Linked DNA regions of Homo sapiens: region 2 is linked to region 1. Evidence: fine-mapped expression QTL. A gene starts in region 1. The other region holds a variant in brackets. All regions are shown on one strand. Distances are between the middles of the regions.

Region 1 (4,405 bases):
TCTACACATGAGTGCAGACACAAATTTCCTGCATAAACCCTAAAAGTAAGACCACAAATTTTACTAGTTCTGTGCAAGCATCCACTTGGCATACATAAGAATGGAACTGTTCTTTTCCTTTTCCAGAGGGTGTAATTTGCTATCTCCCTAATTGAAAGCCACATCCCACAGTCCTAACACTATGAAAACACCTCAATTCGTGGGAATGAAAATTTAGCTCTATGAGGACCATAGGAGTCAGCTCATATTGACAAGAAGAATTTAAAATGTATTTTCTTTTCCTTCAAGGAAGATGACACCGGTGGAAGTAGGAGAACCAACCCCACCTCTCCCCTCCACTTCCCTAGAGCCTGCACCTAAAACTTGGTTTCTTATATCCTCAGAAACTTCCCACAATCTGTGCAACTTGGCCTGCTCAGATGAGAGAAGACAGTCTTTGCAACTCAGGGTCAAATAACTTACCCACTGACTTGAACCTGAGTTATTTCACCCTAGGCACAAATATAAGCTTTTTAAAAACATCTTAAAAATTAGTTTAGCATTCAGACATTCTATCACTGAACAAAATTATAAGATGAAAGCAATCTGATTATATAGTATACAAATTTTCTAACAGACCCCATAAACTTTTTAAAAAATAGATCCCTTCTTTGTCTTCCCATCAAAATATTAATGCCATTAATGCCAAAATATTATAAAGCCCTTGAGTAAAAATCATAAACATAGTAACTAGCCTGAGCTCTTCTATATGTCCCTCAGAACTGACAATCGGAGGACAGTAAATTAATGAAGAAATATATACTGTACCATTAGCATTTGTATCTGGAAATGTATTATACTGATGATTTATAGATGGCCAGAAATCATTTTTAAACATTAAAATAATGACTGTCTCTAAATGCTATACACAAGACCTTAGCATCTATATTGTATTAAACATTAGTGATGTTGAGCAGCATGTTTGCAGTATGCTCGCCAGATGATCTAACTACTCACGTTCCCCCAATTAACCAGTTGATTTGGGAAATCAGAATCAGTGGAACTCTAATTCATTTCTGATTTATTAAGCATGGGTTCCAGAAAATTCCTTGGTAAAAAAAAATTGGTCTAATTTTTGTTTTCCTTAGGTCGTTATAAGACAGATATTCTGTATTAAACACATCTACAATTTTGAACAATTATTGTAGTCCAGGAAAAAAGTTAACTTTTTGGTTTTGCTGAATTCAGCTTTTGTGCCTGAACTGAAAACTCATTAAAATGAAGAAGACCATGAAGGTGCCTGTGGCACCGCTTTATCCATTTATTAACCCTCCAAATGTTGGGGAGATTCCTCTTTTTCATCCACATGGACATAGAGAGGATATATCTTTAAGTAGCTGTTAATGGAGAATTAGCAGCGTGTTCTTAAACCAGGTACATTGTCTAAGATAGGGTTTCAACAATCTGCTTAGCCATAATCTAAAAATGTTTTCTTCCTTCTATATCATCATAGTCAGAAGAAAAGTTAAAAACAGAGAGAGTGCATTGCTAAAAATGATTGTCTGGGATTTCAAGTCCTAGGCCCAAGGGTGGGAAAAGAAAAGGAGAGACACGACTTATACATATATATCAGCCCACAATGTGTTTTAGTTTAAAAAGAAAGAAAATATCAATTTAGAAATATTTTTTAAATGAATACTTAAAGAAACAATAAAAACTACTGTTTAGAGTGGATAACTGACACTGTGCATTTTTTTAAATCATTTTCTAACAGTTCTACAATAACACCTATATGTTTTTACCTTGTTTATAAGATGCCAAAACCATATTCTCATCTTCGACTTCAAAAACAGTGTCCACATCTATTTGCCTTTGGATCAAAATAGCCTTCAATTTTCCGAAGTCATTGGACTTTAGCGCCTCAAGGAAATTTCTCTTAACTAACTTGGCAGCTCCAGATTTAGTGACAGGGGCAGTGGTGCCGTCCATCCTTCCTCTCCCTCTGGAAGCTTTGTTGTGATTTATCGAGAGAACAGCACCGAGCAAACAGGCGCATGCTGGAGAGTCCACAAACTGTCGGCTAATTTTATCCCAAAGTTATGCTGATCCGTTCTATTTATATAGGGATCATTTCAAACTTCAAAATATCCTTCTTGGCTGTCACTACATTTTCAGGTCCTTTAAACTGGTTATATATTAACTGATCCATTCAGTAATATATAGTGTCAATATGAACGAAAGCCCCCGTGATACATTTCCAGGCATGAAATGTCACAATTATTTCTTATATGATCAAAGTAATAATATAAGATTTAAAAGCTCTTAATGCTCTTTTTTTCCCCTCAATAAAAACATCTGGTGCCTGGCTGGAGATCCAGCGTCTTGCTCTGACAAGCCAATATCCAAAAATGAAAATCTGTTACAGTTGTGGATACATTTGCTTCTAAAAACCTGTAATAATTTTGCAATATGAGCTTGTAAAATCAACCATTGTCATACATATCTGAAGACAAACAGGAGGTTTTCAAGTGACCTAGACTTGAAAAATTTTAATATGAAAAGCTGGGAAGGGAGGAGGTGGGGAGACGGTCCGGGGCAGGGACTCTTTTAGGTAAAAAAGAAACTGAAGAGATAAAACATTTAAATGCAACATGTGAATGAACTTTATTGAATCCTGTTTTTTAATCAGCTAGAAAAGACAGTATTGTGGAACTATAAATGTGGACTAGATATTACTTGACAATATAGAAGTGTAATGATAAATGTGGTTATGTAAAAAAAATTCTTACTCTTAAGTGATACATTAAGGGATAAATTGTCATGATGTCTAAAACTTCTTTAAAAATAGCTCAGAAATGCAGACAGATAAATAGATGTGTGTGTATGTGTATATACATATATATACATATATACACATATATATACATATATACATATATACACATATATACACACACATATATACATATATACACATATATACATATATACACACATATATATATGTGTGTGTAAATAGAAACAGAGAGATAGCAAGTGTGGCAAAAACTTAAAGACTTGGTGAATCTAGTAAGGGATATATTGGTATCCATTACATTATTCTTTCAGCTTTTCTGTAAGTTTGAAATTTTTCAAATAAAAAGTTGGAGAGAAAAGTATACACTTAATTTTTCTTACATAAAATCATTAAAAATTAGGAAAATTATAATAGCAAGTTCTAAAGAGAATGCAAATAAATTGCATTTTTATATGTCGTTTGTGGAAGTCAAAACTGGTGCAAACTTTCTGCAGAATAATTAAAAACATGAATTTTTAAAAACTTACAATGATACTATTTGATTCTTAGAATTTACTTAAGCATGTAAATGATGCAAATCACAACATAATTTTAAACTTATTTTATTGATGTGTAATATAAATGCAAGAAATTGGCAAGTTACAGGTATACAGCTTGTCAAATTTTTAGTGAACAAACTCATGTAATCAACATTGAGGTTAAACCATAGACTAGTTCAAGTTTACCTGAAGCCCCCTTTATGTCCTCTTCTAATCAAAACACCTGCCTCAAAGAGATAACAATAAATCTTAACTTCTAATACTATAGATTAGTTTTGTTTGTTATTTTTTTTTGAGACAGGATCTCACTCTGTCACCAGACTGGAGCACAGTGGTGTGATCTGGGCTCACTGCAACCTTTGCCTCTCAGGCTCAAGCCATCCTCCCACCTCAGCCTCTGGAGTAGTTAGGACTATAGGCATGCAACCAGCACATCTGGCTAAATTTTGTGTGTTTTTTTGAAGAGACAGGGTTTTGCCATGTTCCCCCGGCTGATCTCCGACTCCTAAGTTTAAGCGAACCTCCTGCCTCAGCCATCCAAAGCGCTGGGATTACAGCCATGAGCCACTATGCCTGACAATTTTTTTTTTTTTTTTTTACTTTTTAATGTTAAACATTTTACAATTTTTGAAGATTTTAAATTATATAATTTTTGAAAAATAGCAACAACAAAAAGAGCCATATATGGAAATACTTCCTCAACCAAGGGATTGGCTCCCAACTGACTCTCTGTGACACACTGCTTTTGTTGAAATTGTATTGGCATTTTTAGGGAGCACTTTGCAAGTCTGTTTTATGCTATTGTTATGATTCTTTCCACAAATACCCATCGAGTATCTACCATTTGTCAGACACTTATTCTGGGCACTGCAGATACAGCAGTGAACAAACACAGAAATCCCTGCCCGTGTGTAACTTAGCTCACTAACAGATTTAAGTGGCGATGGGAATCCCTAGATCGCCTCCATTTCCCATACACTAGAATTTGTCACAAAGCTGCAAATATACTAAATTTCATACAAAAATAATATAGTTTGTTTATATCTAATCATTTGATCTGATCCCCCATTATGGGTCTCCCCACCTAACT
Region 2 (4,405 bases), 89 kb after region 1:
CACACATATGTGGATAATATGTAATTCCCCTAATTTTATACCTTAGAATTATACCACATGTATATTCTGCATCCCCCTTAATGGCATTTTGATTATCAATGGTGTGGGACTCCCTAGATCTATATATAGTATTGTGTTACTTACTGTTTAAACGTATAGCATTGAATTTGGTCTACATTAGCTCTTTGAAAGCCCCACTATACATATAAGGAAAGAAGGGTCCAGAGGTGGTGATAAGTGATTTCAAAAGATTAAAGGGCCAACTACAAATGGAATTGGATCTTGAATTTAGGCCTTTTGAATTTATCTGTCCTGCTCTTTCAAAGTCAACAAACCCCTTTTACAATACTGATGTACCTGTGGCCTCTTGACCAAGTCAATTTGGCCTATTGCCAAGAGCAGATTTAGATGGTGACACTCGATACAGTGGCCTCCAAAGTTTGGAATTCTTTAATGCTAATTTACCATGCTGGGGATTTGAATTACTGATTATGGTATTCGAATAAAAACTAACCACTTCTAGGGTTTAAAGTTAATGTATACACACACACACACACACACACACACACATGCACACACACACACAGAGACTCCTCTGCCTAAAGTGAAGAATTTTTAAACAAATTATAGCTAACACAGAACTTCAATCAATTGCCCAAGAATACGCTTCTTTCTTTACCCCCTTCTTCATGCTATGCTGCAAACACAGTGATAAGGAACATGAGCTCTAGAGTCACCTGATCTGAGTCCAGATGGAGGCACTGACACTTAGTTATGTAACCTTAAGTGAATTATTACTTTACCTCTCTAAGCCTCAAAGCCTCACTTTCCTTCTTTTTAGTCCCATCAAACTTGCAGCAAGCAATTCACTTTACTTCTTTGTAGGTAAGGTTAATAAGAAGTAATGTGACAAGGCATGCAAACGCTGAGTGAAATAATAATATGACTATTATTATTTCATTATTCATTCCATTTATTTTTTATTCTTCTAATTTTTCTTTCTCCCAAGTCCATATTTTACATCCATCCATCTAATCATATTTATTGAGTCATTATTAAGCACAAAGTTCTATGGATGGCACGGGAAAACCCAGTGATCAATGCGATGGAGTCCTTCCCACAGGAGCCTACAATCTCAAGCAAAGTTCAGAATTAATTAGTGGTTAATCTTTACTGACTTCATAAAACGTATCAAGCACAGTGCAGAGCACTTGACACTCATTATCACATTTAATTTTAAGCTACCTATGAGGTGGACGTTCTTTTACAGAAGAGGAATCTGTAGCTCAATAAAGCTGAGTACTTTATCTAGGCTGGATCCAAACCCAGGCAGCCTGACTCCCAAACCCTGCATGCATGTCTACATCACACCCCAGGCCCCTCAGCTCTGTGAGCCCTCCTGACTTCGATTCCTCCTCTGCTTGCACTCTTTTAACATTAGTCATCTTAACAAGAACTCTAATCTATACAATTCAAGACGTTACACTGTCCTTTTAATACAACCCTTCTTCCATAGATTTTCTAGAGGCAGCATGGTAGAGGCAGCTCAGTTAAGGGCCCAGATTTTGGAGTCTGCTGCTTGACAGCTGCCTGACCTACAGCAAGCCACATAAGCAATCTGTGCTGCAGGTCTCACCTGTAAAATTGGGGTAAGGCTACCCAC[A/G]CTCCAGAGATTGTGTTGATAATTAAATGCGTTAACATAGGTGTCAGCACAGGCAAAGCACACAGTCAGTACTGCATAAGCGGTGGGCTTCATTATTCATCCTGTAATTACGTATTCATACTAGAATCATGTATCCCATAGGTCAGGGACCACCTTTTCTTTCCTTAATACCCCCAGGATTGGCAAATCTTGCTCTCTCAACAAATAGTTTACTCGGTGGAACCTAACAGAACTAATATTTCTTTCTGTCCGTAAATAAAAATAGATCATGCTTGAATGTGCTACTTTGCCCGAACTCCCCAAGTCTTCCCGCATCTTCAGTTCCTCCCCCTCCAACCTGGTGTTCATCAGGAGAGGGGAAAGAGCATTTCTTGCCTGGCAGGAACTCAAGACCTAGAAGAAAGAGGGCCTACCCTGCCAAGGAAATGACCTTCCCCTTCCTCGCCTCTGCTCCTCTTCCCGTTTCCTGTCTTTTCCTTCTTTTCTCCTGGTGTTTCCTTCTCCCGTTAACTATGGGGACAGACGCAGCTATTCACAAGTCCGTCTGGGCAGCACACTCCGAGGTAAGGCACGAAGGTCAGGAGACAGGTTCCCGTGCCCCAAATCCTGGAGAAGATGAGTTAAAGCTCTTCGCTTCGATTGCCTTCGCCCTTCCCGCGTCTCGGGAGCAATTCAGTGTCGCCTCACGTCTGGCCTTGCAGAAGTCCGGAGTTCCGGCTCTGAACTGGAGCTCCCCGCCATTCCCGGGCCCTCCGGTTTCTCCCTCAGGCCATCTGAGGAATTGAGGTAGGATTTCGCGGGTGTTAGGAGCAAACTCCCACCACAACTCGGTCCCGGGCTCCCTCTCCGTTGAGCCTTGACCTCTGCCCAAAAAACAAGGAATCGTGGGCGTGAAGGCGGCCTTGAACCCGGGCGGCGGGGCTCGGCGGGACTCGTCAGCGCCCTGCTGCGGCACCCGGGCCGCTCAGGTAAGTAGGAGGCGTGTGCGGGCGGGGCCGAGCGGGCCCCAATCCGTACGCGAGGCAGGAACCGCCCGCCGCGCCCCCGAGAGCTCTCGGCGCCGCGCAGTCGCCGCTGGGCACCCCGAGACCATGGGGAAGCTCGTGGCGCTGGTCCTGCTGGGGGTCGGCCTGTCCTTAGTCGGGGAGATGTTCCTGGCGTTTAGGTGAGTGGCATCTTGACAGGGCGTCTTCGACTCTCTTTCTCTCCTCTTCCAAGTGAGGTCAGGGGCTGCCTGGCGCCCCCTTCCTAGCGGGTAGGAAAGAGCAGCTTTGGAACCTCACTCCTCCATCTCACCCAGCAAACCGCCCCTTGAGACTCGCTTATGGGGAAAGTGAGCTACTTGCGTTTCCAAAGACTGCCGAGCCGAATTAGTCCCATTTATTTTTTGAAGGTTATGATCCCCCACTTTGCTTTCTGAAGGTCATGACCCCCTTTTACTTTCTGAACGTGATGACCCCTTTCCCAGCTCGCCCTCAACATTCTGCTTGGGAAAAAAGGACGTCCATTGGAAACGCCGGACTTGGGAGAGAGGATCAGGCTACCAGTTGGATGTTTACGGCTGACTGAGACATTGCCCAGGTCTGGCTAACCATGCAGAAGTACTGGGTTATGGAACCTATCCTAGATTTAAAGAGCTGGCCAGACAGCAGGGCAAACCAGCTGAAACCTGCAGGCGGTAACTGGCATTTTGTAGGCATTTGACCTTTTGAAGTGGAAGATACAATGGTGATAGCCAGCCTAGAAATGTCTCAGGAAAAGTCAATACTGGGCTAGAAAGAAGAACCTTTAAGTGATAATACACATTCATGAGTGGATCGAAAGCCTCTGCTTGCTTTCAGTTGTCTTTGAGTGTTTATGTATTTCTCTTAGTTGAAGCTGGTCTTCTTAGAGGATCACGTCTAGAATCTGTTGAGGTGCCTGGTGCCTATTAGTAATACTTCCAGTTTGAGAGTTTTATTGTTACATTTGCTCCCAGTGCAACCACATGGAGAATCATAAAATAATAGTAATAATAATAAAGTAGATCTAAGGGTATTTTTTTAAATAAATGACTGTAAGATAAGTATTGAGTCTTTCTGAATATACTTTAATAAAAATTTTAAATTATCCCTGATATTAGAAGAATGTGGAAACATTCCTTTTCACTCTGGAAACAAGAAAATTGTGTTGAAAAATAAATCGGCCAATTGTTTAAATTGTGGTTGGTTTAATGAATTTACATACTTGCGGAGTAAGTCAGCATAAAATTTAAAAATTAAAGCAAAAGTGATAGAGTTTGACTATTAGGAGACCCTGTTGAATTTTGGGAAAGCAGTTTGGAAGGAAAAGTTCAAAGGGCAAGACTGTAGGGGATTAAGTGCAGATTTATAACAGACGATACTTTAGAAAATTAGGGCTATTTCGTGCATTTAAATTAATAATATTGTTCAATTACTCATACTATTAAATAGTGTCTTTTATTTGGGCAGCAGAATTTTCCATGTTGAATCATATTATACAGTTTTTCAGCAATAACTGGGTAAGGTTAGCTGATATAGGTAAAATACCCACATAATGTCTACATTATGTAAATAAACATGAAAGGAAGTACCTACTTACTTGTTATGTCATTCATAAATTATGATAAAGATAGTTAACCAACACGAAGATGATTGAAGTCCACATTTAAACATACATTTTGAATGCTGTGCCTTGACTTCCAGGGTTGGGTTTTATCTTCTACAGAGAAAGGGTGAATGC

Direction of the effects. Alleles are on the strand shown, and positions count from the first base shown. SD is a standard deviation of normalised expression in the study named.
For the expression in tibial nerve of the gene that starts at base 1,997 in region 1, allele G in region 2 goes with a higher level than allele A (large effect, 0.76 SD a copy in GTEx).

What was found.
Region 2: its variant is fine-mapped to the expression of ASB4 in tibial nerve (GTEx, PIP 0.93).

The regions. Positions count from the first base shown.
Region 1 is chr7:95,483,535-95,487,939 of GRCh38, reverse strand. It overlaps ASB4 (ankyrin repeat and SOCS box containing 4), which reads right to left and starts at 1,997. Exons shown (of 5, transcript NM_016116.3): 1 at 1,782-1,997. The coding sequence starts at 1,968.
Region 2 is chr7:95,394,700-95,399,104 of GRCh38, reverse strand. PON3 (paraoxonase 3) reads left to right here and starts at 2,730. Exons shown (of 9, transcript NM_000940.3): 1 at 2,730-2,828; 2 at 4,391-4,405. The coding sequence starts at 2,755. LOC107986822 (a long non-coding RNA gene) reads right to left here and starts at 2,633. Exons shown (of 2, transcript XR_007060439.1): 1 at 2,077-2,633. The variant A/G (reference allele first, on the strand shown) is at 1,664.